7 linked regions of the Homo sapiens genome follow. The protein of the gene in region 6 purifies or fractionates together with the protein of the main gene of each other region. This does not show direct contact. Each region holds a gene or a part of one and is shown on either strand. Other genes may lie near its edges.

Evidence for each region.
Region 1: the proteins of TXNDC15 (region 6) and SLC25A16 purify together in Homo sapiens (affinity purification with mass spectrometry, with the first as the bait; one large-scale study listed by BioGRID). This does not show direct contact.
Region 2: the proteins of TXNDC15 (region 6) and AGPAT5 purify together in Homo sapiens (affinity purification with mass spectrometry, with the first as the bait; one large-scale study listed by BioGRID). This does not show direct contact.
Region 3: the proteins of TXNDC15 (region 6) and ATP2B3 purify together in Homo sapiens (affinity purification with mass spectrometry; 3 studies listed by BioGRID and IntAct, with this or other methods). This does not show direct contact.
Region 4: the proteins of TXNDC15 (region 6) and PON2 purify together in Homo sapiens (affinity purification with mass spectrometry; 3 studies listed by BioGRID and IntAct, with this or other methods). This does not show direct contact.
Region 5: the proteins of TXNDC15 (region 6) and GPR89B purify together in Homo sapiens (affinity purification with mass spectrometry, with the first as the bait; 2 studies listed by BioGRID). This does not show direct contact.
Region 7: the proteins of TXNDC15 (region 6) and SLC7A3 purify together in Homo sapiens (affinity purification with mass spectrometry; 3 studies listed by BioGRID and IntAct, with this or other methods). This does not show direct contact.

Annotation. Positions count from the first base shown.
Region 1 is NC_000010.11:68,524,724-68,529,013, reverse strand, and holds the start of SLC25A16 (solute carrier family 25 member 16), read left to right. Parts: upstream 1-1,490; 5' UTR 1,491-1,638; coding exon 1,639-1,768; intron 1,769-4,290. UniProt on the Homo sapiens protein: May be involved in the transport of coenzyme A in the mitochondrial matrix. Very little is known about the physiological function of this carrier.
Region 2 is NC_000008.11:6,711,151-6,715,674, reverse strand, and holds part of AGPAT5 (1-acyl-sn-glycerol-3-phosphate acyltransferase epsilon), read right to left. Parts: intron 1-4,524. UniProt on the Homo sapiens protein: Converts 1-acyl-sn-glycerol-3-phosphate (lysophosphatidic acid or LPA) into 1,2-diacyl-sn-glycerol-3-phosphate (phosphatidic acid or PA) by incorporating an acyl moiety at the sn-2 position of the glycerol backbone.
Region 3 is NC_000023.11:153,551,810-153,556,333, reverse strand, and holds part of ATP2B3 (plasma membrane calcium-transporting ATPase 3), read right to left. Parts: intron 3,300-4,524; coding exon 3,065-3,299; intron 286-3,064; coding exon 106-285; intron 4-105; coding exon 1-3. UniProt on the Homo sapiens protein: ATP-driven Ca(2+) ion pump involved in the maintenance of basal intracellular Ca(2+) levels at the presynaptic terminals. Uses ATP as an energy source to transport cytosolic Ca(2+) ions across the plasma membrane to the extracellular compartment.
Region 4 is NC_000007.14:95,414,068-95,418,591, reverse strand, and holds part of PON2 (serum paraoxonase/arylesterase 2), read left to right. Parts: exon of another isoform or gene 1-276; intron 277-2,294; coding exon 2,295-2,350; exon of another isoform or gene 2,351-2,403; coding exon of another isoform or gene 2,404-2,420; intron 2,421-4,524. UniProt on the Homo sapiens protein: Capable of hydrolyzing lactones and a number of aromatic carboxylic acid esters. Has antioxidant activity. Is not associated with high density lipoprotein.
Region 5 is NC_000001.11:147,987,064-147,991,423, forward strand, and holds part of GPR89B (Golgi pH regulator B), read left to right. Parts: intron 1-1,368; coding exon 1,369-1,458; intron 1,459-4,360. UniProt on the Homo sapiens protein: Voltage-gated channel that enables the transfer of anions such as iodide, chloride, bromide and fluoride which may function in counter-ion conductance and participates in Golgi acidification.
Region 6 is NC_000005.10:134,884,001-134,888,524, forward strand, and holds part of TXNDC15 (thioredoxin domain-containing protein 15 isoform 1 precursor), read left to right. Parts: intron 1-3,694; coding exon 3,695-4,182; intron 4,183-4,524. UniProt on the Homo sapiens protein: Acts as a positive regulator of ciliary hedgehog signaling. Involved in ciliogenesis.
Region 7 is NC_000023.11:70,924,470-70,928,511, reverse strand, and holds the end of SLC7A3 (cationic amino acid transporter 3), read left to right. Parts: coding exon 1-56; intron 57-254; coding exon 255-367; intron 368-491; coding exon 492-714; intron 715-888; coding exon 889-1,028; intron 1,029-1,127; coding exon 1,128-1,230; intron 1,231-1,470; coding exon 1,471-1,637; intron 1,638-1,818; coding exon 1,819-1,985; intron 1,986-2,333; coding exon 2,334-2,442; intron 2,443-2,568; coding exon 2,569-2,699; 3' UTR 2,700-2,933; downstream 2,934-4,042. UniProt on the Homo sapiens protein: Uniporter that mediates the uptake of cationic L-amino acids such as L-arginine, L-lysine and L-ornithine. The transport is sodium ions- and pH-independent, moderately trans-stimulated and is mediated by passive diffusion.

The sequences.
Region 1 (4,290 bases), on a different chromosome or scaffold from region 6:
GCAGGCGGATCGCGAGGTCAGGAGATGGAGACCATCCTGGCTAACACGGTGAAACCCCGTCTCTACTAAAAATACAAAAAATTAGCCGGGCGTGGTGGTGGGCGCCTGTAGTCCCAGCCACTCAGGAGGCTGAGGCAGGAGAATGGCGTGAACCCGGGAGGCAGAGCTTGCAGTGAGCCGAGATCAGGCCAGTGCACTCCAGCCTGGGCGACACAGCGAGACTCCGTCTCAAAAAAAAAAAAAAAAAAAAAAAAGAAAGGCTGCATCTTAGGGAGGTCAGAATACAGCTCCGAGAGCAGGGCGCAGAGGCTCACGCCTGCAATTCCAGCACTTTGGGAGGCCGAGGAGGGCGGATCCGATGAGGTCAGCAGTTCGGACCAGCCTTGACCAATACGTTGGAAACCCCGTCTCTACTAAAAATACAAAAAGTAACCAGGGGTAGTATTGCACGCCTATAATCCCACCTACTAGGGAGGCTGAGGCAGGAGAATTGCTTGAACCCAGGGGGTGGAGGTTGCAGTGAGCAGAGATCTCGCCACTGCACTCCAGCCTGGGCAACAGAACGAGACTCCGTCTCAAAAAAAAAAAAAAAAAAAGCGCGATAGGCGATTACTGGTCAGTGGTCAATATAGGTCAAGGGACGAGACAGGAGAGAGCTTTCTAAGGTTGTGGGCCTTTTTATTTTTTATTTTTTTGAGGCGTAGTCTCGCTGTGTCGCCCAGGCTGGAGTGCAATGGTGCGATCTAGGCTCACTGCAATCTCCGCCTCCTGGGTTCAACCAATTCTCCTGCCTCAGCCTCCCCAGTAGCTGGGATTACAGGCGCCCGCCCTCACGCCTGGCTAATTTTTTGTATTTTTAGTAGAGACGGGGTTTCACCATGTTCGCCTGGCTAGTCTTTTTTTTTTTTAGACGGAGTCTCACTCTGTCACCCAGGCTAGAGTGCAGTGGCGCTATCTCAGCTCACTGCAACCTCTGCCTCCTGGATTCAAGTGATTCTCCTACTTCAGCCTCTCGAGTAGCTGGGACTACAGGTGCCCGCCACCCCGCCCGGCTAATTTCTGTATTTTTAGTAGAGACGGGGTTTCACCATATTGGCCAGGCTGGTCTCGAACTCCTGACTTTGTGATCCGCCCGCCTCAGCCTCCCAAAGGGCTGGGATTATAGGCGTGAGCCACGGCGCCCGGCATCCAGGCTAGTCTTGAACTCCTGACCTCAAGTGATCCGTCCGCCTGGGCCTCCCAAAGTGCTGGGATTACAGGCGTGAGCCACCGCGCCCGGCCAGGTTGTGGGTTTTAATGGGACCATCTCACTGCCTACCGTTTCCTTTTTCCGTCCGAACAGAAGGGGCCTGAGCAGTGAACTGACAGTGGCAACGCCGGGTGAGGCGGGATGGAGGAGTTTACGAGCCTGGGTGACGCCCTGTTCCGCGTCCTGGCCCCGCCCCTCCCGGCAGAGCCCCTTGGCGCGTGACACAGGCCCCGCCCTTGCTGTACGCCATCAGCCGGCGCCGCGCCGCCGGGTGTTACTTTGCCCCGCCGGCGGGGCGGTCAGCCTCCTGTCACCGCCTGTTCCGGCTATGGTCCCGTCCGGTGTTCTGTAAGTTGGCAACCTAGGCTCCTGACGCGACCCTGGTCCTGATGGCGGCGGCGACGGCCGCGGCAGCCCTGGCGGCGGCCGATCCCCCTCCCGCAATGCCGCAGGCGGCAGGGGCCGGAGGGCCCACAACCCGCAGAGACTTCTACTGGCTGCGCTCCTTTCTGGCCGGAGGTGGGTCCATGCCACGAAGAGCCAGCCGCGCTCTGAGTGGCGGGGGCAGGACTGTGGGCAAGTGGGATGCAAGCGGCCTCTATGACATTCCTGGACTCTGGCTGCTTCAATGTTCTGTTAGATGTCTGCCCTGACCTGCTGTAACCTCTTTCTAGTAATCACTTGACTAATGACAGCTAGGTTATGGGGAGTGGGACCTTTGGCACTCCGGCAGAGGCTGGGGAGGTGGAAGGTCTGAATCAGGCACCCATTCTTCAGGGCTGGATAACAGGGAAAAGAGGAGGATCCCTTACAGAGACCCTGGGGTTTTAGTGAGACATGCTGGGCACTCCTTTCTTTTATAAAAACCGTGAGTGACCCAGTGTAGACTTGGATTTTGCTGTTTGCTTAAAGGAAAACAAATATTGGAGATCAGCTTTTTAATGACTACTGGAAAATTGTGCAAACTGTCTACAGCCAAAACTGGTTCCAGTGATTCTAGTAAACTGTGACACAGTACTTGACAAGCCCTATTATTGATGTGACTTTGGGATCAAAAAGTTCATATTGTCTCTTAGGAATTTCCTGGGCCTTCAAGCTCCACCCTTCCTTAATTACTTCTCTGGGTTGTGTAGGGGTGGGTTGCCCCTCCACACCTGTGGGTGTTTCTCGTAAGGTGGAACGAGAGACTTAGGAAAGAAAAAGACACAGAGACAAAGTATAGAGACAGAAATAAGGGGACCCGGGGAACCAGCGTTCAGCATATGGAGGATCCCGCCAGCCTCTGAGTTCCCTTAGTATTTATTGATCATTTGTGGGTGTTTCTCGAAGAGGGGGATGTGTCAGGGTCACAAGACAATTGTGGGGAGAGGGTCAGCAGACAAACACGTGAACAAAGGTCTTTGCGTCATAGACAATGTAAAGGATTAAGTGCTGTGCTCTTAGATATGCATACACATAAACATCTCAATGCTTTACAAAGCAGTATTGCTGCCCGCAGGTCCCACCTCCAGCCCTAAGGCGGTTTTTCCCTATCTCAGTAGATGGAGCATACAATCGCGTTTTATACCGAGACATTCCATTGCCCAGGGACAGGCAGGAGACAGATGCCTTCCTCTTGTCTCAACTGCAAGAGGCATGCCTTCCTCTTATACTAATCCTCCTCAGCACAGACCCTTTACGGGTGTCGGGCTGGGGGACGTTCAGGTCTTTCCCTTCCCACGAGGCCGTATTTCAGACTATCACATGGGGAGAAACCTTGGACAATACCTGGCTTTCCTAGGCAGAGGTCCCTGCGGCCTTCCGCAGTTTTTGTGTCCCTGGGTACTTGAGATTAGGGAGTGGTGATGACTCTTAAGGAGCATGCTGCCTTCAAGCATCTGTTTAACAAAGCACATCTTGCACCGCCCTTAATCCATTCAACTCTGTGACACAGCACATGTTTCAGAGAGCACGGGGTTGGGGGTAAGGTTATAGATTAACAGAATCTCAAGGCAGAAGAATTTTTCTTAGTACAGAACAAAATGGAGTCTCCTATGTCTACTTCTTTCTACACAGACACAGTAACAATCTGATCTCTCTTGCTTTTCCCCACAGGTTGTCATTACTTAATTATTTAAGATTCAAAAATTTAAAAATTCCACATTGAAGTTGTGTGCAGTGGCTCACTACTGTAGTCCCAGTTACTAGGGAAGCTGAGGCAGGAAGACTGCTTGAGTCCAGGAGATCGAGGCTCCAGTAAGCCATGATCACACCACTACCCTCCAGCCTGAGCTACAGAGAGAGACCCTCTCCTAAAAGAAGAAAAAAACAAAAACAAACAATAAAAATTCGCTGGGCAGGGTGGCTCACGCCTGTAATCCCAGCACTTTGGGAGACTAAGGTGGGCAGATCACTTGAAGTCAGGAGTTTGAGACCAGCCTGGCCAACATGGTGAAACCCTGTCTCTACTAAAACTACAAAAATTTGTCAGGCGTGGTGGCACTCGCCTGTAATCCCAGCTACTCAGGAGGCTTAAGGCAGGAGAGTCGCCTAAATCACTGTGGAGGTTGCAGTGAGCCGAGATCCTGCCATTGCACTCCAGTCTGGGTGACAGAGACACTCCATCTCAAAAACAAAATAAAATAAAACAAAAAAAACCTCACATTATGAGGATTTGTAGAAAGATAATATCTGAAGACTGCAGCAGTATTAAGTTTTTTTTGTTGTTGTTGTTGTTTTGAGACAGAGTCTCACTCCCTCACCCAGGCAGGAGTGCAGTGGCGTGATCTTGGCTCACTGCAACCTCTGCTTCCTGGGTTCAAGTGATTCTGCTGACCCAGCTTCCCAAGTAGCTGGGATTACAGGGGAATGCCACCATGCCTGGCTAATTTTTTTTCTTTTTCTTTTTTGAGATGGAGTCTCACTCTGTCGGCCAGGCTGGAGTGCAGCGGCACGATCTCTGCTCACTGCAACCTCCGTATCCGGGTTCAAGTGATTTACCTGCTTCTGCCTCCCAAGTAGCTGGGATTACAGGCGTGCACCACCATGCCCAGTTAATTTTT
Region 2 (4,524 bases), on a different chromosome or scaffold from region 6:
TCTCATTTCAACCAATATAACCACATTGCCAGGCAGAGCATCTTCAGAAAATAAGTGCCTGAAACTCCTGGCTAGGCTACTACAGATGTGAACCATGGGTGTTCCCTTTTCCTTGTCTGTAAAAGAGGAAGAATGGTGCCTACTTTGTAAAGATGGAATTATTTACATAATAGAACAATACTTGCACACAGCAGCACTCACTAACTGCGACTGAGTGTGTTACTAACCCACCCTCTTCTTTTTCCTCCACATTCAATCACAAAGCCCTATCAGCTACCACTAAAATAGATTTGGAATTCTTTTCAATCTTAACATCCACTCTTTCCACTCCCCTAACCATCATTTCTCACCTGGATGACTACATTACCTTCCAAGCTGGCCCTTTTACAGAGCTCCACACAAATGTCACTTGCTCAGTAAGATTTTCCAAACCCCTACCTCTCACCCACCAGGCTAAACAACCTGGCATGGCACAGTAAATTTTCATTTTCTTGTTATTGTTTGTCTTCCCACACTAGAATGTGACCTCCATAATGGCAGGTACATTGTCTATCAAACATTGTACCCCTTGGTACCCAGGACAGCACCTGGAACAATGTACACACGGGAATATTGCAGGAATTAAGGGATCTGGGTTCTAGAGATCCCTTACTGAAAAGTCATTACTTACTATTGAATGGTCCAACCACTAACATCAACCTCTAGTTAAGAAACCATAATAAAATGAGAAAATAGTAAAGGAAAAGTTAACTTCTGATTCCACTTGAGAAGCATCAGCTCCACAAAATCAGACAAATATACAAAAGAGGGAAAGTAAACTAGGTATATACGGAGTGCTGTTTTCCCGTGCCTTCCATCGTAATGGCACAGAGGTATCCCCATAGGTATGCAGGTATATTTCGTGCTACTGTACTAAAAAACTGATCTGTAAGAAGTTCATTTAACTAAAGAACCTTCCCACAATTCAAACACTTACTCAAAAGCTCTTGGAAGAAATCTAAAGTTACACACCAAACTGGGATGTACCTAGGAAAGGTGTACGCAGTGTAGGAGTAGGGGAAACTTTAACTTTCTCAAAGTATTGTGGCAGTGTTTGAATGTATAATTGCATCTGTGATTTTAAAATAGAAAAATCAGGCATTAAAAAACTATACACAAATGCAACCTGAAATAACTGGTTTGTTCACAGAGGTTTATATTTATAAAGTGTAAAAATAGAGTTCTAGTTACATTTTTTTAGTATTTTCCTATAAGTCTAGTAAGTTAAGCAGTTCCCTAACCAGAATTTAATTGTGTTAGACTGGAATTGTATTTGATTGGGAAATGTTTAATTTCCTATAGTAAAAGTTTTTATTATCCTGCTTAAATAAGCAAATGCAGAAACACACCCACACCTACACAGTCCTGTCACTCTCAGCTAAAGTGAAGGAAGCAATTTAAGATCTATTTAAGGTCTTCACATGAATGGCAAATAAGCAGAGAAGAGTAAAATTAAGGATACAAGGTATGATTCATATTCTTGTTAGGACTATAGGTATCAGAGACGACGCTGGGCAACATTTTGGCAGAAGTGCAGAAAGAATGTAGAAGTGTCATAAAAGGGAGTAGACTAGATGACTTATAAGCTCCCTTCTCCAATTCTAAGTAAACATGTTTCATTCTAATGAATGGCTGCTTTTACAGCAAGATTCAGAATATAAATTTAACTCATTAGGAGTTTAGGATTAGTTTGATGAATCAGTGCTACACAAAGAAAGATCCAGTTATAAATGTTCTCTAGATAAAAAGCCTTGACTGTTTCTGAGAAACTTGGAACAATGTTTCAGTTAAGAGTATGAATCAGCTAAGCATGGTGGATCAAGGACGGATCACTTGAGCCCAGGAGCTCAAAACCAGACTGGGCAATATGGCAAAATCTCGTCTCTACCCCCACTAAAAAATACCAAAAAAAAAATTAGCTGGGCATGGTGCTGTGTACCTGTAGTCCCAGCTACTCAGGAGGCTGAGGTGGGAGGACCGCTTGAGCCCGGGGGCAGAGGTTGCAGTGAGTGGAGACTGCACCACTGCACCTCTGGTTTGGGCAACAGTGTGAGATTCTGTCTTACAAAAAAAAGTATGAATCCTTGGAGAAGTTAAGGGCATATTAGAGAAATGTCAAAATCTTAAATTCTTTATCTTCTTTCTTGTGTTTTTCACACTATTTTACACTTAAAGCAGGTCAACTGAAAACCTGTTTATTTTATATAAACTTAAGAACTGTGCATTTTATTGTTATATTACATTAGCATTTGGAGAAGGGGGAATTAGCAGTCAGAGCCACTAATGTAAAATATATTCTGAAGTAAATTCCAAGTGTTACCAACTGATTTAAGCAAGATAAATCGGTAATTAGAATATTTATTAGGGGCTAGGCATGGTGGCTCACACCTGTAATCCCAGCACTTTGGGAGGCCAAGGCAGAAGGATCACCTGAGGCCAGGAATTCAAGACCAGCCTGGGCAACACAGAAAGACCCCATTTCTACAAAAACTTTTAAAAATTAGCTAGAAATAATGGCACGGCAGCTACTCCGGAGGATCACTTGAACCCAGGCATTCAAGGCTGCAATGAGCAATGATGGTGCCACCGCACCAGAGCCTGGGTGACAGAAGAAGACCCTGACTCAAAAAAACCCAAACCCCAATCTATTACGTGTTGATTAATTTTTTGGCCTACAAATTTCAATGATCAGTTTTCAGTGTATTGCATAGGAATGGGGGAAAAGAAATTTTTTAAAAAAGAAGCAAAGAAAAAAGAATTCTGACATTTGAAGACATCCTATTAACATTTATCAGCTTCACAGAACATGCTAAAAAGATTTGTCATTATTTATCATAACGATTACAGTTATTGTTTATGCAGCTATCTCAACATTTAGGATATATCTAGATTCCTAGGATAGAATTCTAGGCTATAAACTAACATAAATCTAGTTTCACGTTAACTCACGATGATAGAATTTAAGGTAACTTCATTCCTTTTTCATGAGTCCTACCCAATCCTCTGTCAGTACTCCAACTTTCCTTTTAATTTCCCATAAGTTTTCCTTAAACTCCAGCTCAAGGATATATATACGGCCTCTTACTCTGAGTCTCTAAGCATTCCACATTCAAGTTACTTCCTATCCTATAGATAGGGCTTTTAAGTGGCAAACAAACCAAACACCAGTATATTCACCACATCATACATAATTAATTGTCTTAGAAGTTATATCACCTTTAATTTATCAGGATTTCAGTTATTTCCATATATATATATATATAATCACAAGATGGTAATTTCAGAATCAGATAAGAATTAAAAGAATACCGAAATATGAATAAGTTGGTTATTATACAGAATGCAGATTTGTTCCGAAAATAAAACAGTTAATCAAATGTTCTACTTAAGGGATATGTGAAGGTAAATCTGTAAATAAGAAACTAAAAGATTATGGGAAAGTAAGTAAACTTATTACAGAAAACCAGGTTCTCTGTTAAAGAAAGCAGAGACCAAAATGCTTTAATACGTAAATACCTAAAGAAATAAGGCAAGTTAAACTACGAAATAACTACAAAATACTGAATAGGCAGAACTATGGAGTTCATTGTTGTGGGGGAATGAAGGGCAGCCCCTCAAAAAATGTGTCCACATCCTAAGCCCTGGAACCTGTGAATGTTTTCTTATTTGGAAAAAGGCTCTTTGCAGTTATAATTAAGGATCTTGAGATGAAGAGATCATCCCGGAATATCCAGGTGGGCTCTAAACCCAATGACAAGCATCCTTCTAAGAGAAAGGGAGAGTGAGATGTGAGACAGAAGAGGTGGCAGCAAGGACTGTAAGGCAGAGGTTAAAGTGATGGGGCCCCAAGCCAAGGAATGCCACCAGTCACCAGAAGTTGAAACCCACAAGAACGGATTCCCCCTAGGGCCTCCAGAGGGAGTAAAATTGAGCCTACACCTTGATTTCAAAGTGCTGGCCTCCAGAATCACGAGAACTTAAGTTCTATTATTTTAAGCCGCTTAGTTTGAGGTGATCTGTTTTGGCAGCACAGGAAAGTAACACAGGTACTTGAATCAATGCCTCTCAACACAGTAGAGAGACTTAACTGGATTTTCAATAGTCTCAAATTACGTGAAATATAAAAAAGCTTATAAAATTCTTATTACTTATTCTAAAGAAATAAATGGTGAAGAAAGTACCCATTTGAGTTTCAGTACCAATGAGAGATTCTGGAAGGACCTAAAAGGATAAACGAGTTATAAGGAACAATTTTAGCAGCACTGACTGAAATATTTCTCTATCTCAGAGATACATATGAAAATAAAGTAGTGAAATTGGGGAAGAAAAAGGTATTTACCCAGAATCCAAGAAAAATCCAACTAAATTTGTTGGAAGCAGGTTTACCTGCCAAGCACAGATCATAAATCTCATGGACCTACTACTACTTCTCTTCAGCTTAAAAATTCTATGTAAAAGAAAATATTCTTCTGCAAGAACTACTGT
Region 3 (4,524 bases), on a different chromosome or scaffold from region 6:
TATCTGGGGAGGGGAAGCACAAGGACGCTGCAGAGCTAAGGCGGGCACGCAGGGGGCTGGGGTGAGGAGAAGGGGGGTCTGGGGTGGCAGACAGCCGGGTGCTACCTCGCCTTTCTCATTGCGGATCCGCCGGTTGAACTCCTTCCCTTCTAGGCACAGGAAGTCCTCCCCGGGCTGGATGATGCCGCATTTGGCTGCGATGGCCCGGGCCGTGTTGATGTTGTCCCCAGTCACCATGCGGACTGTGATGCCAGCACGCTGGCATTTTCGGATAGCTTCAGGGACCTAGAAGAGACAAGAGAGGTGGGCGGGGCCATCGAGGCAAGACGTATTTTGGGTTGAGGCAGTACCCCTTCCTCCATCAGATCTGCAGGTGGCCCAAGGTCCAGCAGAGGTGAGAGTAAAGCCATCCGATTCACGTGCTCAGAACACTTGTGTTAGCCTACAGTTGGGCAAAAGCATTGAACACAAAGCCTATTGTGGAATACAGTGCTGATTATCTCATGTAACTCATTGAATCCTGCACTGAAAGGGAAAAGCATGGGACTCGAAGTAAAGTTTCTGCTGAATGTGCATCACCTTTGCACCAAGTTACAAAATTGTTAAAAGTTGGGGACCACCTGCATCACATTAGATTCTGGAGAAAGAGAAAGAGGTTCCCCAGTGCTGAGTGGAAAGCGAACAGCCTGCAAGGGGTTGAGAGCGGGAAGCCAGGAGACTGGCCGGGAGGTGGTGGCATTGTCCCAGTGGTGGGGGGACAGGGAAGACAGTTCCCAAATGAAGAGGTATGTGGCTCTTCAGGCTCGGGGACAGAGAGACAGGGTCAGGCAGCTGATGCCACTGAGGTAGACGGGCAGGGGGAGAGGAGAAGAGGAGCCAGGTTCAGAGTTTGGGAACCTGAATGAGGAGGTCAAGCCTAGGCAGTGGGGCTTGTGAGCACCGTCGGGTAAGTGTAGAAGCCTAGGTGTGGCCGAGCCGCCAGGCCTGGGGAGCCTGCGGCGGTGGGGAGTAGACACGCAGGAGTGGGAGCCAGGGGTAGGGCAGCCGGGAGACACCAGGGGAGGACATTGACCTGGGAGTCCCTGAATCCTGGCGCCCCCTGAGGCCATGGGCAGGGGGGCTGTGATCTTTGCCAGGGAGACAGCTGGGGGCCCCACTCTAAGCTGTGACAGGGTGATCCAATGGTTCCTGCAGCATATACCACTAAGTGGCCTCACTGCCAGCCTCGGGGACACTTCGTACTCTCTGAGGATCTTGGGGTGCTGGATAACAAGATCACGAGCCACAAGAAGACAATTCTCCTTTGAGCCAGCGAATGCCTGTCCCTGAAAAGTCTGGAAGCCACCCCTCTGCTGCCACCAAGTGGCCGTGACGAGCCTGAAAACCAGCAGCTGCGAACCCAGGCCTCCTCCCTCCTCAGGCCCAGTGTGTGTAGCCCAGTTCCTTCCCCATGGCCCCAAAGGGCCAGGCCAGGCTGTCCTTCCTCGCCTGCTCAGCCCTGCTCCCTGCCTTCTCCCCAAGGCCCCACAGCACAGCAGCCAGCCAGGTGTCTGGAGAAGTTGCCAGTGCCCCCGGCCGGCCCAGCTCCAGCATCAATACCACCCCAGCCACAGGCTTCCTATGGCTCCCCAGGGCCCAGCCTCACGGGCCCTCCTCTGGCTGCAGCCGTGCCGCATCTCCAAGCACCCTGGCGGTTTCAGTGAGGCCCTTGTGTCCTACTGCCTGTTGCCGGCACCCAGGACTTCGCTGGGCCTTCTGTGCGTCCTCCTCAGCCACCACCAGGCTGGCCAGTCTTTGTGGGGGTCTGCCCAGCCTCCGCAGCCTGGCCCTGTCACTGTGGTCTACCCCTTGGACTCTCTCTCAGCCACTCTTAAGCTGGAAAGGAGCTGTCCCTATTCCCCAGGCCCCTCTGGCAAGATTCCTTCCTCTGCTCTGTGCTTCAGTTGCTCCCTGGTCCAACAGAGGGACTCGATGGCTCCTGTCCCCAAGTGTGGCCTTGCTTCGCCTCACCAGCACCCTCTCCTTCTGCTCTCCCAGGCTCAGTGGGGCCCGGGACTCATGCCGCTGCCCGCCTTTGCGGGGCCCATTTCCCTCGCTGGACTTCTGTCCCCTGTCCTCCGCTACCACCCATTTTCTCCCAGGGCAAGCTCGAGGTGCTCCCTCTCTGGGCGCAGTGACCATGTTCTCCTCGGGGCACGGGGCTGCTCTGTTGACATGAGCCATGGCTGGCGTTTAGACGCACTGTCTTTGAATTGAGTGTTTTTGCTACATGATCCAATACATGAATGCCTGTCTCCCGAAGGAGAGCCCAGAAGCTTCTCCTCCCAGGTTGCACCTGCACCCCCAGGGTGGCTCCTACAAAGACAAGTTGTCAGGGTCACAGTGGCCCTGCTTGTGACACAGGTGGGTGCCATGCAGAGGCCCTGGGGAGACAGAGGGGCACCCCATGCCTTGCATTCTCCCTCCGGGGCCGGCCATCCTCCACACTCTCCAGGGTCTGGGATCTTTCAACAACAAAGTGACTTCCCAGTGTCAAGGCCATGGCATCTGCCACGCGGCCCTCGAGGTCCCCTCATCTGGACTCCCCTGGTGGCATCGTCCATATGGGGATATGCTTCTGGGCTCCCTTTCCCGCCAGGACCTTTGCTGTGAGCTCGCCACAGGACGTCCTGACCGTAGAGTAGCCCCAGCCAAACCCTCAACCAATAAACGCCCACCCTGTGCCCCAAACCTGTGTCCCCTCAGGCTTCAGCACCACCTCCAGTCCATCGGTCCTGGGTGGATCAGATCCCAAATGTCGACGGTCTCTCCGCCACTGCCACCTTCTCACCTGGTAGAAGGTGGAGCCTGAGCTGGGCCCATAGGTCAAGCGGGAAGGGCTTTCCAGCAGGCAGGACAGAGCCTTTGTGCGGGTGTCAGGGTGAGAGCACCCAGGACGGGGCTCAAGTGTACTACGGAGGGACCGCAGCAGCTGTGTGTGAAGGAAGGCCGCCCCTACCAGTCCGGACAAGCTCGGGCAGAGGGCACAGTTACCAGGGCAGCTCACAGAGAAGGTGGTGGCTACCTCGGGCCGCACAGGGTCCTCAATGCCCACGACAGCTATGCAGGTGAGGTCACCCACGACCTCATTCTCGTTGTCCCAGTCGGGCTCCTGGCCTGCAGAGAAGTCCCGGTAGGCGATGCAGATGGTGCGGAGGCCATCGCAAGCCATCGGCTCGATGATCTTCCTCACCATGTCGTCCCGGTCCCGAGGCCGAAAGCCCCGGAGTTCGCCATTGCTGTTCAAGATGTTGGTGCACCTAGGCAGGGGGTGGGCAGAGATGAGGTGGAGGTGGGGAGAGAACAACAAGGAACAGCGCTGGTCACACTGGATTGGGGGCTTAGTCAAGGACTGGGGTCCTTATCAGAGAGGAGTGCCCCGTGTGAGAACACAGACACACAGGGAGAAGGGCGTGTGACAACAGGCAGAGATTAGAGAGGGTCAGCTGCAAGCTGAGGAACGCGAGGACTGGCAGCCACCACCAGAAGCTGGAGGATGCAGGATGCATCCTCTCTGAGATGCTTTGGAGGCGCTTCGGCCCTGCCCACGCCCTGCTTTTGGACTTCCGGCCTCCAGAACTGGGGGAGAATCCATTTCTGTTGCTTGAGGGCACCAGGACGCTCATGCACTGCTGCAGGCTGAGAGACCGGGAGGGAGGCAGGAGCATGTGGCTCATGGCAGCTCCACCACAGACTTCATAGGGCAAGCGGGTGGAACCTGGGCAAAAACTGAAGTCTGTGGACAATCGCTATAACCACGTCCAGGCAGCCACAGCCTCAGTAGAGCGCTCATGACTCCAGGAGCTTCTCAAAAGGGACAGGACTTGGGAGGATTCAGGTGGGGAGAGGAGGGAGCAAAGGAGCCGAGGGTCACAGAGGCGGGCATGGTGGAAGAAGCCAGTGGGGCTGTGAGTGCCAGGTGCTGCCACTGCATGGGAGGCTGGTGACGAAGGAAATGATCATAACAGAAGCTGTGTGGACGGAGAGCCTCCTATGGATGTGGATTCACCCACGGAACCCTCACACCCCTCCCCAGAGATAAGTATTCTGTGATCTCCATGCCACCAGGGAAACTGAGGCATGGGAGTAAGGGGGAGTGAAGCTGGGCTGGGCCTTTTGTCCGCAGTGCCTCAGTGTCCCTCAGTGCCCACCAAAAAAGAAGCACAGAAAGAGGGCTGAGGCCCCCACACCAGCAGGGATGGCTCCAGGGAGGAGGTGGTCCTGGCCCTGGCAGTGAGCGCTGCACCTGGCAGAGTTCTGGGAGAGCGCTGTGGGTGGGGCGGCCAGGCAGGGTGCACTTGGTGGTCCAGTCCGCAGAACACAGGAAGGAGCGTGGGCCTGGGCCTTTGGGGAGCCCTGGGCGTCCTGCAGAGGACCTTGCCCTGAGGGCCCTGGGACGGCAGTCATGAGGAGCGAGGTGACTTGTGGACAGAGACGCCAAGGCCAAGGGTGTGGAGTCCGGGAAGGCTGAGTGGGAGTGGGGAA
Region 4 (4,524 bases), on a different chromosome or scaffold from region 6:
TGCAGGATATTCATTGGTAAAGATGTTGGTGAGAGGCTTGGAAGCAAAACTTCAGGGGAAAAAGACAACATATGGAATTGACCACAATTGAATTTACAAGTGAAGTGGCTTTACAGAGGAATCAGGGGATGTTTCTGAGAGAGGAAATTCATTAAATTCTAACTTGAATATTTTCTGTTTGCCTTTAAGTCAGAGCAAAGGCTTTGAGTCCCAGCTTCCCAGTTTGTGACCTTGAGCAATTGCTTAACTTTTCCAAAGCCTCCAATAGTCTTCACTCTAAAATAAAAGATAATCATATGAGATATTGTATGCAGGGTATTTACAAGGAGCCTGGTACTTGGTGTACCTAATGTATGTTAGTTATTATTATTAAATTAGAGGAGCAAAAATTTCTCTAGCATTGACTGCTCCTGACATAATCACACCGAAGAGGGGATACACGATGATAAAACCTTCCTGCAGTAGTGGCTATAGAAATGATGACGGGGAGAAGATCTGGAAAATATTCCAAAGAAGGCTACAGATAGATACATTTTTTCCATTGGAATTAGGCAATGGAGTTAAACAGAAGTTACAATATGGTTGAAATAAATGTATTTTTTTAAAAAAAGATTTCTCTTTCCTTAATTATTAAAAAATATACAATTTTGTAGAAAATTTTAAACAAAGTATAAAGAAAAAAATAAAAATCATTCATAATCCTATCAAAGAAGCATTGTTAATTTTTTCTATATATCTTCTTTTTCCACGTGTATACTTGGAAATTAAATTTTCTAAAATAATTTTCAGGAAAAACAAATTTTAATTAATTGAGCTTCTACTAAATAGGACTGAAAAGCAAAACCTGGACTAGAATTCTCTCTCGGTGTGTGTGTGTGTGTGTGTGTGTGTGTGTGTGTGTCTGTGTGTACATGTGTATGTGCTGTGTATACATGTGTATGTGGTGTAGCGTTCCCCTGATTCTTAACTTATTACCAGTGGACAACCACCGTGGAACTAGAGTCTAGTCATTCTTAACCTTTTTGGGGGAATCACAGTCTCTTTTTTGAATCTGATGAAAATCAAGGACCGTTTTTACAGAAACGTTCTCATCTGTGCATACATGAGACATTTTGCATTGCATAGAATTTCCGAGGGTTCACAGATACTTTGAAGCCCAAAAGTGATCCACAGACCCCAGATTGAGAACTCCTCCGCTATGCCATGCTTAAGCTTATTTCTGTGTATCTTCTTTCTGAGGAGCAGGCAGATGGGTCATCTTTACAATGTGAAGTTCTTGGCATTTTTATTTTGTTTTGTTTTTCTGCACTACGATGGAGCAAGCAACACTGGAGGCAACTGGCTAAATGCAAACTCATGAAGCAAGACCAAAATGGCTGGATAGATAGATGCTGTTTGGTTTTGACAACCTAGAAATAACCTTGAAGAAATCCTATGGAGAAGTCTTAAAGAGGAAGATTGGATTTTGTAGACTCAAAGAATGTGTCATGGTTTGGCTTAATCTAAGCCATTTTTATTCTTCTTTTCTTGTGTTTGGGTCTATTATCTGTCTGTAGAATTTATACAGTGAGACTGCTGGGGAAAGTCTTATGTCTAATTATTTGCTGTGCTGTGTGGAGTGTACTGCAGACAGTCAATAAACAATCAATAGTAATTGTAGCCTGCCTCAGAGACAGGAGTTAGAAACTTCAACTGGCTTAGGTGCATGGTATTTTTCATTAATTTTCTTCTGCTAGTTTTTTTCTCTAATTTAAAGCCTAAATTTAAAGATTAAATAGAAAAGCTTTCTTTGCTTATGAGCACAAGTAGGCACTGTTTTTAAAAGAAGGAATATATAATCCCAGGTGTTTTACCTCTGTTAATGAGAAAGATGTCTGTTTGCTTCAGATTGAATGAGCAAAGAAGAGGACAAGGATATTTGCATGGTTAAATGCCTATGAGCCCTTCCTTCAGAAAGTAATATTCCCCTGATGTCAATTACTTTTATACGGACATCTGGATGTTTATCATGAGAGTGTACAGATGTCAACTTTTTCAGTATTATAGCTGGAAATGTGGTGATAACTTGACTTTGATTTGAGTAAACATAAAATATCTAACATTTAAAGTCAGAAGTTCACTTCAGGAAGGGGTTTAAACTGACATTTATTAAAAAGAATGGTTCCTTGGAAAAAACATCAGAACCATCCCTAAAGATACAGTCACTCTGATAAAGTAAACAGAGTCCCAGTTATGCTCTGTGTAACAAATAACAGAACTTGAACATGACATTTATCTGTTCCTTAAACTTACAGAAGCTGGCTCTGAAGATATTGACATACTTCCCAATGGTCTGGCTTTTTTTAGTGTGGTGAGTGTCTTCTTCCTTCCCCAAATTCAGCAGAGGAGATACAAGGGTATTTGATGAGGGCTGCAGAACAGTAAGTTGCTTTTAAAATTCATTTTCCAAAATGCATTCTGAAGAAAAGAGAGGTCAAACAAGATCTTGGAAAACTTCCTCCAGCTTTTCTAAATGTAGAGATGAAGACTCTTTGCCCATTGAGATAGTGTTCTTTATTTCCCCATTGCATTGCACTAAAATATTCCAATGCAATCTGTGTTTTGTTTTGTTTTTTCTTTTTTAATTTTTTTTATTTTTTGAGACGGAGTCTTGTTCTGGTTGCCCCGGCTGGAGTGCAGTGGCATGATCTCAGCTTACTGCAACCTCCGCCTCCCGGGTTCAAGCAATTCTTTTGCCTCAGCCTCCCGAGTAGCTGGGATTACAGGCGCCCGCCACCATGCCCGGCTAATTTTTGTATTTTTAGTAGAGATGGGGTTTCGCCGTGTTGGCCAGGCTGGTCTCAAACACCTGACCTCAGGTGATCGCCTGCCTCAGCCTCCCAAAGTGCTGGCATTACGGGAGTGAGCCACCACGCCCAGCGCAATCTGTGTTTTAAATGTGCACTATTAAGAGGGATATTTGAGGTCTTACTGTGGATACTCAATACTAACATTATACTATTTTAAATACAGCATCTACTCATCTTTCTATTACTATTCAACTTGAAGCAAATATTCTTGCCATTATTATTTATTTTCAAATATTATACCAACCTTGCCCTTTTGCTTTCTTTCTTTTTTCCCCTGAATAGCCAATCATAAGTGGAAAGTCATTGAGTTTATTTACACCCTTCATTTTGCCTTGATTCTTGTAAGCTGAAAAACAATATCCTTTCTGGGTATACAATAGAAAGACTTTAAAAACAATTGGCTTGTGAATATTGTTGTGAATATTGTTGAAACTAGCTTGTAACAATGTCCATTCTAATTGGAAATCCAGATAAGGGGACAGATGAGGAGGTTCTGACCACCTACCTCCCTGGCTTGGGCAGACATAGGAGTTCTTGGCATCTTCATAGGTCCAGTTTTTCTGGAGGAAGAAGTAACCAACTCTGACACCTGACTGTAATTATTCCATTTCCTCTCAACATCCATTATTTTCAGGCTCTGAGACTCAAGAGGGATGTGAAATACTGGGAGATACTTAGAAGGGAGTCACCACACTAATAAAATAGTTGTTAGACTTATGAGAAAGGTGAGAGAACTCAGGTTGGAGTAGAATGAGAATTAGAACACTCTTCAGGTTCCTGATGGTTTTTATGTGAAAGACAGTGAGCAGCTGGTTATTACCACTGAGGCAATAAAGAGATACTGTGGGCTTTAGCAGAAACACCAGTATATGTATTTAGTTTTTAAAATAAGGTTTTAAAAGGAATGTTTTATTTAATTGCCTACACAGAATGAATAAAGTGATATTTATAGTAGGACTCTGGGTTTGTTTAGGAGCACATGCTTGCACATGTGTGGCTTAGGAAAAACCACTGGGACCACTAGTCTAAAATATTCATAAGTAAAGATGCAAACATTCTGAATAAAGTAGAAGGCAGTTGCATTGATTTTTTTATTTGTTTATTTGTGTTTTTTGTTGTTGTTTTGCAAGGATGTGTTCTTGGAGATTTTTATAATCTAGAATTCACCTATTTCAAGATTTCTCTCCAGCCCCCATAGTAATAAATCTGAAGTAGGAGGGATGAGGTCTCCAAACACATAAATCTACAGCCATTTTAGCTTGGGGGCATGTTATAGTTACAAAGATCTTATAGCCATATCAATAGAACTTTTTCTGCTTTTTTTCTGTTACCCTCCTTTGCTCATTTGACTTTTTTTAAAATTTAGAAACATTCCCAGTTTGCTGCTGTTTTTCATTTACTTGGCATTGTCTCTAATAAAACCTAGAGTGTACTCTCTTCTAAATAAAGAGGTCCTACATTGTGGAGGTTGTTCATTCTTCTTCCTAGCATTTTAGCTCATCTAACCCAACCTATTTTACAGTTATGGGTTGAGGGTCACCTCAAAACTAATGTCACACTTCATGAAGAATTGGATGACATAGAATAAAATATAAAAAATGTAAACAATGTGAGTGTGCTTAACACCACTGAACTGTACACTTAAAAATGGTGAAAGTGATGAATGTTGTATGTA
Region 5 (4,360 bases), on a different chromosome or scaffold from region 6:
AAAAGGACTTGGATGAAATGAAAATGAACAAGAGCAAATTGAGCCCCAATCCTTGAGAAACAGCTCAATGTACATGTTTCTTGATGCTAGATCAATAGTGTATCCTCTTTGAGTGTGAAGGAACATGATATCTTTTCTTCAAGTGGTATATAAATTATATTAAGTATGCTTTACAGGCCACGCAGTACTGTGGCCCACATCTGTAGTCCCAGCACTTTGAGAGGCCGAGACAGATCACTTGAGTCCAGGAGTTCAAGACCAGCCTGGGCAACATGGTGAAAACCTGTCTCTAGAAAAAATATAAAAATTAGCTGGACATGGTGGCATGCACCTGTAGTCCCAGCTATGCAGGAGGCTAAAGCAGGAGGATCACTTGAGCCGGGGAGAAAGAAGTTGCAGTGAGCTGAGATAGTGCCACTGCACTCCACTCTGGGCGACAGAGTGAGACCCCTGTCTCAAAAAACAACAAAAAGTATGCTTTGCTGTTGTTGCATTTGTGTTTCCTTAAGTGTTTTACTGGGCTGAATTTTTAGCAATGCTTTTGCTTTTCTGTACTTTCTGAGGATACTTACATGGCCATGTATATATTTCATCTGTAATTCATCTGTTTATGCTATATTTTGTAATTCTGAATAACAAATCATTTAGATGTTAGTAATAGCAGCTCCCTTTCAGATACTTTTCAGAACTGAATCAAACACAGGGTCCCAAAACTCCTTCTCACTATGAAGCAATACAGGAGGAGAAAAAGGTATCATGTGGTTCCAGTGAAGTTCAACTATTTCCTAGAATTTAGCTGAGAATGTCTATATATTCTTTTACTATAAAAAGAAAGATTCCTTGAAGTTTTGGTGATTAGGGAACTATTATTCATAGATAGAAAATAATCAAGGTATTATTTAGTTTCCTTTTAATTCCTGCTTTTCATTTATCACAGTAAAACTGTATCATTAGTTCTGTTTTTTTCTGATTTATTAGCGTTATTTTTATCACTGCTTGGTACTTGCTGCCGGGCATGGTGACTCATGCCTGTAGTACCAACACTTTGGGAGGCTGATGTGGGAGTATTGCTTGAGCCCAGGAGTTTGAGACGAGCCTGAACTACATAGCAAGACCCTGGCTCTACAAAAAAAATATTTTTTTAATTTTAAGGTTTAATTAAGTCTGCTAATTAAGGTATTTACTGCAGTCTTTCTGTAGTTGTTTTATTTGCCACTTACTTGCTTTCCTCTCTCCCTTAAGAAAAAAAATCAGGTAGGGTCTAATAAAGCTCCCTCTCACAGTCATGTAAATGATTGGGATATAGCTTAGCCCTTACGTCTCTCTGAACAGAGATTTAGCAGATATTTTTTCTTGTTATGGTGGCAGGTGAAGTTTTGGTCCCAACACATTTCCTTCATTCTTGTTGGAATAATCATCGTCACATCCATCAGAGGATTGCTGATCACTCTTACCAAGGTATGTTTTATCACAGTGTTAAAAAGTACTGCTTATCATTTGTTTAATTAAATGTGGTACCAGCCGGGTGTGGTGGCTCACGCCTGTAATCCCAACACTTTGGAAGGCTGAGGTGGGTGGATCACGAGGTCAGGAGATCGAGTCCATCCTAGCCAACATGGTGAAACCCCATCTCTACTAAAAATACAACAAATTAGCTGGGTGTGGTGGCACATGCCTGTAGTCCCAACTACTTGGGAGGCTGAGTTAGGAGAATCACTTGAACCCAGGCAGCGGAGATTGCAGTGAGCCAAGGTCACACACTGCACTCCAGCCTGGTGAAAGAGCAACACTCCATCTCAAAAAAAAAAAAATAGGTGGTACCATGAGATAATTTTACCTCATTAAGAATTCTGCCTCCTGAGACTTTAAACAACAGTGTCAAGGATTTAAAAGACATACAACAGAATTTTTTAAAAGTTAAACTACTACATAAATTGATGATGATATATTTACATCATATACCAATTATAGATAAGTACATTCACTAAAGGTGATAGAGTAAGATATGGGTCTGTTTTGTTCACTGATATGTTATCAGTATCTAGAACAGAACCTAGCACATGGTAGGCAGATATTCAGCAGATATTTGAGACTGGAAGAATAGTTGTGAGAGTCACTTACAGAGAAGATATGGAAGTAAGGGAGCAGAATATAGCAAGTCCTTAATGTCATCAATAAGTTCTTGGAAACAGCAGCTTTAAGCAAAACTATATACCAAGTCCTCAAAAAAATGTTTCATTCAACATTTCATTATAATGCTGTGAGAAAAATGTAGTTTTGTTATACATCATTTCACTTAAAATCTCAGTTTCCAAGATCCTATAAATGGCATTAAGTAAGGACCTACTGAATTCAACTATTTTCTTTTTTTTTTTTTTTAAATTATACTTTAAGTTCTAGGGTACATGTGCACAACGTGCAGGTTTGTTACATTTGGATACATGTGCCATGTTGGTGTGCTGCACCTATTAACTTGTCATTTACATTAGGTATATCTCCTAATGCTGTCCCTCCCCCCTTCCCCCACCCCACGACAAGCCTCGGTGTGTGATGTTCCCCTTCCTGTGTCCAAGTGTTCTCATTGTTCAATTCCCACCTATGAGTGGGAATATGCAGTGTTTGGCTTTTTGTCCTTGCGATAGTTTGCTGAGAATGATGGTTTCCAGCTTCATCCATGTCCCTACAAAGGACATGAACTCATCTTTTTTTATGGCTGGATAGTATTCCATGGTGTATATGTGCCACATTTTCTTAATCCAGTCTATCATTGATGGACATTTGGGTTGGTTCCAAGTCTTTGCTATTGTGAATAGAGTATGTGAATAGTGAATAGTATGAATATTGCACACGCAATAAACATACGTGTGCATGTGTCTTTATAGCAGCATGATTTATAATCCTTTGGGTATATACCCAGTAATGGGATGACTGGGTCAAATGTTATTTCTAGTTGTAGATCCTTGAGGAATCGCCACACTGCCTTCCACAATGGTTGAACTAGTTTACAGTCCCACCAACAGTGTAAAAGTGTTGCTATTTCTCCACATCCTCTCCAGCACCTGTTGTTTCCTGACTTTTTAATGATCACCATTCTAACTGGTGTGTGATGGTATCTCATTGTGGTTTTGATTTGCATTTCTCTGATGGCCAGTGATGATCAGCATTTTTCCATGTGTCTGTTGGCTGCACATGAGAAGTGTCTGTTCATATCCTTTGCCCACTTTTTGATGGGGTTGTTTTTTTCTTGTAAATTTGTTTGAGTTCTTTGTAAATTCTGGATATTAGCCCTTTGTCAGATAAGTAGATTGCAAAAATTTTCTCCCATTCTGTAGGTTGCCTGTTCACTCTGATGGTAGTTTCTTTTGCTGTGCAGAAGCTCTTTAGTTTCATTAGATCCCATTTGTCAATTTTGGCTTTTGTTGCCATTGCTTTTGGTGTTTTAGACATGAAGTCCTTGCCCATGCCTATGTCCTGAATGTTATTGCCTAGGTTTTCTTCTAGGGTTTTTATGGTTTTACATCTAACATTTAAGTCTTTAATCCATCTTGAATTAATTTTTGTATAAGGTGTAAGGAAGGGATCCAGTTTCAGCTTTCTACATATGGCTAGCCAGTTTTCCCAGCACCATTTGTTAAATAGGGAATCCCTTCCCCATTTCTTGTTTTTGTCAGGTTTGTCAAAGAGCAGATGGTTGTAGATGTGTGGTATTATTTCTGAGGGCTCTGTTCTGTTCCATTGGTCTGTATCTCTGTTTTGGTACCAGTACCATGCTGTTTTGGTTACTGTAGCCTTGTAGTATAGCTTGAAGTCAGGTAGCGTGATGCCTCCAGCTTTGTTCTTTTGGCTTAGGATTGACTTGGCAATGCGGGCTCTTTTTGGTTCCATATGAACTTTAGAGTAGTTTTTTCCAATTCTGTGAAGAAAGTCATTGGTAGCTTGATGGGGATGGCATTGAATCTATAAATTACCTTGGGCAGTATGGCCATTTTCATGATATTGATTCTTCCTATCCATGAACATGGAATGTTCTTCCATGTGTTTGTTTCCTCTTTTATTGTGTTGAGCAGTGGTTTGTAGTTCTCCTTGAAGAGGTCCTTCACATCCCTTGTAAATTGGATTCCTAGGTATTTTATTCTCTTTGAAGCAATTGTGAATGGGCGTTCACTCATGATTTGGCTCTCTGTTTGTCTGTTATTGGTGTATAAGAATGCTTGTGATTTTTGCACATTGATTTTGTATCCTGAGACTTTGCTGAAGTTGCTTATCAGCTTAAGGAGATTTTGGGCTGAGACGATGGGGTTTTCTATATATACAGTCATGTCTTCTGCAAACAGGGACAATTTGACTTCCTCTTTTCCTG
Region 6 (4,524 bases):
CCGAGGTCAGGAGTTCGAGACCAGCCTGGCCAACATGGCGAAACCTCATCTCTACTAAAAAATACAAAAATTAGTCAGGTGTGGTGGCAGGCACCTATAATCCCAGCTACTTGGGAGGCTGAGGCAGGAGAATTGCTTGAACCCGGGAGGTGGAGGCTGCAGTGAGCTGAGATTGTGCCACTGCACTCCAACCTGGACGATAGAGCAAGACTCAGTTTCAAAAAAAAAAAAAAAAAGGGTACAATTTGATCTTTTTTTTTTTCCCGAGACAGAGTTTTGCTCTTGTTGCCCAGGCTGGAGTGCAATGGCACTATCTCGGCTCACCACAACCTCTGCCTCCTAAGTTCAAGCGATTCTCCTGCCTCAGCCTCCCAAAAAGCTGGGATTACAAGCATGCGCCACCACGCCAGGCTAATTTTGTATTTTTAGTAGAGATGGGGTTTCTCCATGTTGGTCAGGCTGGTCTCGAACTCCCGACCTCAGGTGATCTACCCGCCTCAGCCTCCCAAAGTGCTGAGATTACAGGTGTGAGCCACCGAGCCCGGCCAATTTGATTGTTTTTATTTTTATTTAGTTATTTTTTTGAGACAGGGTCTCACTCTTTCGCCCAGGCTGGAGTGCAATGGCTTGATCTTGGCTCACTGCAACCTCTGCCTCCCAGGTCGATTTGATATTTTTAATATCTTATATCTTGATATCTACTTTACTTTTTGAATGCAATACAGTTACAATTATTGTTTTAATATCCTTGTCTGCTAATTGTGACATGGGTGCAAGTTCTGGGTCAGTGTGGCTTGATTGATTATTCTCATTATGTGTCCTATTTTCCTGCTTCCTTATATGTCTGATAATTTTTTACTGGATGCCAGACATGAATTTTACTTTGTTGAATGCTGGATATTTTAGATTCCCTATACATATTCTTTTTTTTTTTTTTTCTGAGACGGATTTCTCTCTTGTTGCCCAGGCTGGAGTGCAGTGGCATGATCTCGGCTCATTGCAACCTCCACCTCCTGGGTTCAAGTGATTCTCCTGCCTCAGCCTACCGAGTAGCTAAAATTACAGGTGCCCGCCACCATGCATGGCTAATTTTTATATTTTAATAGAGACAGGGTTTCACCATGTTGGTCAGGCTGGTCTCAAACTTCTGACCTCAGGTGATCCACCCACCTCGGCCTTCCAAATTGCTGGGATTACAGGCGTGAGCCACTGCACCTGGCCCCGTATATATATTCTTGAGCTTTGTTCTGGGGTACAGTGAAGTTACTTGAGAACAGCTTGATTCTTTCAGGTTTTGCTTTTAAGCAAGCAAGCTGTTATTTTCTTTAGGGTTAATAGTGTCCCACTACTGACGCAGGTCCTTTTGTATACTCTACTCAATACCCTGTGAATTATGAAGTTTTTCAGTCTAGCTGGTAAGAAGAGGTACCATTCCCTGCTCTGTGTGAATGTTGGGTACTGTTCCTTCCCATCCTTTCTGGTAGTTCTTTCTCTGGCACTGGGTAGTTTACTCACATGCATGTGATGACCCGTACCCTGCTGTATACTTGGGGGGGCCTCTGCAGATCTCTGGAGTCCCCTCTCTAGATAGCTCCTCTCATCTGCAGTATTCTGTCTTGCAAACTATGGCTTCTTGGTCTCCTTGGACTCTTAGCTCCATCTCCTCAACTGGGAGAGTCTGCTGGGCTCTGCCTGGATTTCCCCTCCCTGAGCCACAGTGGGAACGCCATCAAGGCAGTAAGTTGGAGCAGTTGTAGGGTTCTCTTCATTTGTCGCCTGTTTCTCGGATGTCACTATCCTCTGTTGCCTCATAACTGATTTCCTGAAACTGTTGTTTTATATATATTATCTATTTGGTTGTTTCAGTAGGTAAGGTAAATCTGGTTCTTGTTACTCCATCTTGGCCAGAAGCAGAATTCCCAGATAATGTTTTTGAATCTCTGAATGAATCCACAGAGCTCTATGCCCTAGTGTGAGGTAGATCAGTAGGGTAACTGTAGTTCATAATAGCCTATTGTATATTTTAAAATAGCTAGAAGAGAAGAATTTGAATGATTCTAGCATGAAGAAAAGACAAATATTTAAGGTGATGGATATCCCAAATACATTGATCTGATCTTTACAAATTGCATGAATATATTGATTATCACATGTGCTTTGTGATTATCACATGTACATCTGTTATGCATCAGCAACAACAAAAAGCTCTACAGGGATATTCTTTGAAATCTTATACAAATGTGCATACCTGAGGAAGCCCCCAGACCTTCCCAACTTTGAAGTCAGTTGGTCACTGACACTCCAGTGACATGCTGTTGGCACGCAGAACTCATCACCCAGCGGGTGGTTTCTTAACCACATGGTGAGCTTTCGTGAGGGCTGCTGGCCTCACTGGTTTCTGCTGGTTGGTGCCTGGCACAAAGTCTGGCAGCTGGTGTTGAGTTGATGAGTTGGAGGGCAGGAGGCATTGCTATGGAGGTGAGTGGAGTTGGGTAAATAGATGTACGAGACTACCTGGGACTCTTCCCTTATCTGAGCATTATGCTCAAGACCCACCTTCTAGCTCCAAAGTGGGGGAAAGTTCTCTTCTTCCTCCTGCTGCTGCCTCTGCACTGCCGAGCCCATCTCCCAGCACTCCCAAGGGCAGCAGCCCAAGGGTGGCAGGCAGGAGAGCAGAGTCCAGCTGTCAGAGGCCACCTCAGGAAGGAGCTGCTGTGTGGCTTGAACAGTGTTCTTCAGGCAGTGTGGCTCAGCATCCCCGAGGTATCATGGCAGGGAGCCTACGGCTCGTTCTGGAGTAGCAGCCAGAAAACTTTGCTCGCAGACTTGGCTTTGCTGCTTACTATCTGTGTACCATCGGACACTGTGCTGAGCCTCTCTGTGCCTTGCCTCGTTACCTGTTCAGTGGTCTTGGTAACCCTTGTCTTGCCCATCTCACAGGACTGTTATAATGTGTGCAAAGATGCTTTGTTCTAGTAGAATCTTGCATAAAACCATGATCCTTTTCTTGGATATTATCAAACAAATGAAACTCTTATCAAAAAATGAAAGTGTTTATATTCTATTTTCCTAATGAGATATCTGAACTGGAATGTTTTTGGTTATAATCCACATGGCAAGCAGCAAGTTTAGGGCAGAGCTGTGTGTTTGTCTATTATTTGACATTCATTATTTTGTTTGCTTGTTTGTTTGTTTGTTTTTTGAGACGGAGTCTTGCTCTGTCGCCCAGACTGGAGTGCAGTGGCGCAGTCTTGGCTCACTGCAACCTCCGCCTCCTAGGTTCCAGCAATCCTCTTGCCTCAGCCTCCCTAGTAGCTGGGATTACAGGTGCCTGCCACCATGCCCGGCTAATTTTTATATTTTTAATAGAGACAGGGTTTCACCATGTTGGCCAGGCTAGTCTTGAACTCCTGACCTCAAGTGATCCACCTGACTTGGGGCCTCCCAAGGTGCTAGAATTACAGGTGTGAACCACCATGCCCGGCCTTCTTTGACATTCATTAATTTATTAATAGTACCTGCTTGTGACCTTCTTCCTAACCTGGGAAATGGTGAGTAGCTCTCTGATAGTTTAATGAAAGGAGACCTTTTTGTCTCCAGAGGGGAAAATTTCGTGTTAGAGGGGAACTGTAATTCTTTGGGGTTCATTTGTTTTGAAGTCAAATATGACTCTGAATGTGCTGGCATGTTTTAGTTGCAGAGGAAAGTGGTCGCTTATGGTCAGAGGAGCAGCCTGCTCACCCTCTCCAGGTGGGGGCTGTGTACCTGGGTGAGGAGGAGCTCCTGCATGACCCGATGGGCCAGGACAGGGCAGCAGAAGAGGCCAATGCGGTGCTGGGGCTGGACACCCAAGGCGATCACATGGTGATGCTGTCTGTGATTCCTGGGGAAGCTGAGGACAAAGTGAGTTCAGAGCCTAGCGGCGTCACCTGTGGTGCTGGAGGAGCGGAGGACTCAAGGTGCAACGTCCGAGAGAGCCTTTTCTCTCTGGATGGCGCTGGAGCACACTTCCCTGACAGAGAAGAGGAGTATTACACAGAGCCAGAAGTGGCGGAATCTGACGCAGCCCCGACAGAGGACTCCAATAACACTGAAAGTCTGAAATCCCCAAAGGTGAACTGTGAGGAGAGAAACATTACAGGATTAGAAAATTTCACTCTGAAAATTTTAAATATGTCACAGGTAAGGAAAAATTATTTAGTGCTTTTCTCCTTTTCAGTACATTTATTTTATGATTAATACCCTATCAACTTTGAAATGGAAAATCATGATCTTGATCATATTGTAAGCGAGATAGCATTTAATGGCTGCTTCAGTGAAAATCAACTTTGCCCTCTGTGATGTTTATAGGGAGACGAGGAAATATAACTAGTGTTGATTATGCTTTTCAGATGGCCTAAACCTAGTTATCCTTGGGCCAGTCTCACCACCAAACCTCACGATAGAAATCCCAGTGGACAGATAGTTGCTTGGCACCAAAATCATAGCATTTTTCCTTTTGAGACAGAGTTTTGCTCTTGTCAC
Region 7 (4,042 bases), on a different chromosome or scaffold from region 6:
AAGCTCACAGAAGAGGACTACGAATTGGCCATGGCTGAACTCAATGACACCTATAGGTTAGATGGTCACTCTTAGGAGCTGCAGAGCTGGGAAAATGAAGGGGAAGAAGGGGATCTGCTGAAGGATTCTGGATGGGGATGGGAAAAAATGGGAGGCTGGGCTTTGAAGACCTAGCTAACTGGTTTGGCATTAGAGAAAAGATACAGAGTTGGCTGAACACACCCTTACCTTCTCCAACCCTTCTTCCACTCTAGCTTGGGTCCTCTGGGCTCTGGAGGATTTGTGCCTTTCGGCTTCGAGGGAATTCTCCGTGGAGCAGCGACCTGTTTCTATGCATTTGTTGGTTTCGACTGTATTGCTACCACTGGTAACACAGTCATTCCATTCTGTTTGGGGCTTGGGCACAGTGTGTGCCCAGGCTGTATGCAGACTGGGGGTGGTAGAGGAGTGGGCCTGCTTCCCTAATTTAGAACCTTACGCCCTTCCTTCAGGAGAAGAAGCCCAGAATCCCCAGCGTTCCATCCCGATGGGCATTGTGATCTCACTGTCTGTCTGCTTTTTGGCGTATTTTGCTGTCTCTTCTGCACTCACCCTGATGATGCCTTACTACCAGCTTCAGCCTGAGAGCCCTTTGCCTGAGGCATTTCTCTACATTGGATGGGCTCCTGCCCGCTATGTTGTGGCTGTTGGCTCCCTCTGTGCTCTTTCTACCAGGTCAGTATCAAATGTTTGTTTTCTTCTGCTGTCAGAGTCTCAGGTTATAGCATTCAGTACCAGAGAATACCCCTTAAAAGGGCTGTGAGGGGAAAGTGGAGACTCTTTAAACATACAGTCTTGGGAAGAGAGATCCCAGTCAACTCATGCCACCCTGGGCATTCTCCTCTCCAGCCTCCTGGGCTCCATGTTCCCCATGCCTCGGGTGATCTACGCGATGGCAGAGGATGGCCTCCTGTTCCGTGTACTTGCTCGGATCCACACCGGCACACGCACCCCAATCATAGCCACCGTGGTCTCTGGCATTATTGCAGGTAACAGACCCTCTTTCCCCTTCCCTTAGTTGTTTCGCCAACTTCTTTAACTTTGCCACTCCCTTCTCTCATTTCTTGTTTCCTGCCTATTAATTTTAGCATTCATGGCATTCCTCTTCAAACTCACTGATCTTGTGGACCTCATGTCAATTGGGACCCTGCTTGCTTACTCCCTGGTGTCGATTTGTGTTCTCATCCTCAGGTGAGACTCTTCCTCTGCATACTGTGATTTGGATTTTTATTCTTGGATGAGGAATGATGGAGATCTGCTCCTCTTTCCTCCTTCGCCTTCATTATTCCAACTTTCTTTGAGGAATCTGGGTATCTCACCCTGCCAAAAAGAACTTCCCTTAATGGTGATGAGGAAGGTTAAGCTGCCTGGGAGAAGATGATAAAGTGAGTAAAGGTTGTTCTTAATACTGCCATCTTACTTTTGCCTCAGGTATCAACCTGATCAGGAGACAAAGACTGGGGAAGAAGTGGAGTTGCAGGAGGAGGCAATAACTACTGAATCAGAGAAGTTGACCCTATGGGGACTATTTTTCCCACTCAACTCCATCCCCACTCCACTCTCTGGCCAAATTGTCTATGTTTGTTCCTCATTGCTTGGTGAGCAGTGGAATTTTTCTGGGGTGGCTCTGAGATCAGCGTGATTGGGTCGAAGTGTGTGGCATTTGGTGGCTGAGGAAGAACTAGAGAGAGAGCGACTCTCCTTGGAACAGGGTTTCTAATGTCTTAGCATGTTGGTCTTAAGAGTTGGTTTTGATGTCTCTCAACTTGACCTTTGAAGCTGTCCTGCTGACTGCTCTTTGCCTGGTGCTGGCCCAGTGGTCAGTTCCATTGCTTTCTGGAGACCTGCTGTGGACTGCAGTGGTTGTGCTGCTCCTGCTGCTCATTATTGGGATCATTGTGGTCATCTGGAGACAGCCACAGAGTTCCACTCCCCTTCACTTTAAGGTAAATGAACTCTGTCTTTTTTCCTTGCCAGCCCATCTTGGGAGAATAGGCTCCAGATATCTTGAGGTCTAATAAAGTTCATAGATATTCTTTAATTGAACATGAAAGGGAAGATATAGGAGGTACCTAGGCCAAAGACTTCTTCTCTGACCCTCTTTAGTTCCTTTCCAGTTCCATTTACCCAAACTGCATATTCTTGGAGTCTCATGAGGTATGCTAAATGAGCAGCTACTGAAATGCAGAGGACAAGTAAGAGTTGGACTCACCCTTTTCTGGCCTGCATAGGATAGGGATCTCTTTCTAGGTCAACCTGTGGTATGTACAAAGAAGATTTTACTTTGTTTTCAGGTGCCTGCTTTGCCTCTCCTCCCACTAATGAGCATCTTTGTGAATATTTACCTTATGATGCAGATGACAGCTGGTACCTGGGCCCGATTTGGGGTCTGGATGCTGATTGGTAGGTATCCACTTGGGAAGAGTAGGCTTCTTTGGTGTCCTAGCCCAGCTCCTTTCCCTCTTGGTCTCAAGTAGGAAACCTATGAAGCCTTTACACCCCCACCTCACAGCTACCTTTCCCCACTAGGCTTTGCTATCTACTTCGGCTATGGGATCCAGCACAGCCTGGAAGAGATTAAGAGTAACCAACCCTCACGCAAGTCTAGAGCCAAAACTGTAGACCTTGATCCCGGCACTCTCTATGTCCACTCAGTTTGACATCGTCACACCTAAATGCTGTCTGGTCCCCTGCACAATAATGGAGAGTACTCCTGACCCCAGTGACAGCTAGCCCTCCCCTGTGATGGTGGTGGTGGATACTAATACAGTTCTGTACGATGTGAAGGATGTGTCTTTGCTATTTCTTGTCTATTTTAACCCGTCTGCTTCTAAATGATGTCTAGCTGCTTACCAACTTTAAAAAATGATATTAAAAGAAAGTAGAAAAATAAACTGTGTCCTGTTTTTTGCTTGCTAAAGATGTAGAGCCTGACTTTTAAGAGTGAAGAGCCTCAGAGAAGTGTCCTTTGTGTTTTCTTCAGTTACCACAAAAGCATCTGCTGTGCCTGTGGGTGCTTCTTGTTGAATCAGGGTTTGAGGAGGGTGGTGTAAGTAGGTAGCCATCCAGTCCAGTCACACTTAAAGGAATGGTCTTGAGATATGTTTTCCCCTCATTACACTTAAGGTTAGGTTCTGGATAAGTAGACAGCAACACTTGTCTCTGGGATTTGGGGTGGACTCTGATAGCAACACTGACATTGGTTAGGGCCTACACTGAAACTATTGGCTTCTGTTCCACCTCTTCTAGTTGGACCAGTCCCACACTCCTGTAACTGCCTGAGCATCAGAAATTTTGGCTGCGGTGTTTGGCACTGCTGGGAGGAGGGGTGGATAGTCAGGGGGTTTGGTAAGGGACCACATATATTAATATATGGATACTGTTTGCTGCAGAAGTAGTAGGAAAATAGAGGTCAGAGCTCTGCTCAGAACGAGAACTATTCATTCATCCATTTATTCAACAAACATAGGTGAAGCTCCTATAAAACGTTAGGTCCTGTGGTGGGTGCTGGGGATACAAATGTGAATAAAACATAATCCCCACCCTTAAGGAACTCACAATCTTGTGGAGGAGACAAGCAGGTAAATATGACTACAAAACAGTGTGATTTGTACCAGGGCAGTGCAGAGTGCTGTGGAAGCACAAAGAAGGACATGCTTGAACTGAGTCTGCAGTAGATGCTTAAGAAGTGGACTGAGGGAAGGGCTTGGCTGTCAGTGTACAGTGTGCAAGAAACCACGGAAGTATGAAAAAACATTCAAATTGTGTTTGGGGTGTGGCATACAGTTTAATGTAGCTGGAGGGTAGCACATATGCAGCTGTGGTAAAAGATAAAAGGCTGTATACATGGCCTTGTATACTAAGGAATTTAGATGTTATAAGTGTGTGTGCAGAGAAAAAGAAGTGGGAAGGCCAGGTGCGGTGGCTCACGCCTGTAATCCCAACACTGGGAGGCTGAGGTGGCCGGATCGCTTGAGCTCAGGAGTTGCAGGCCAACCTGGGC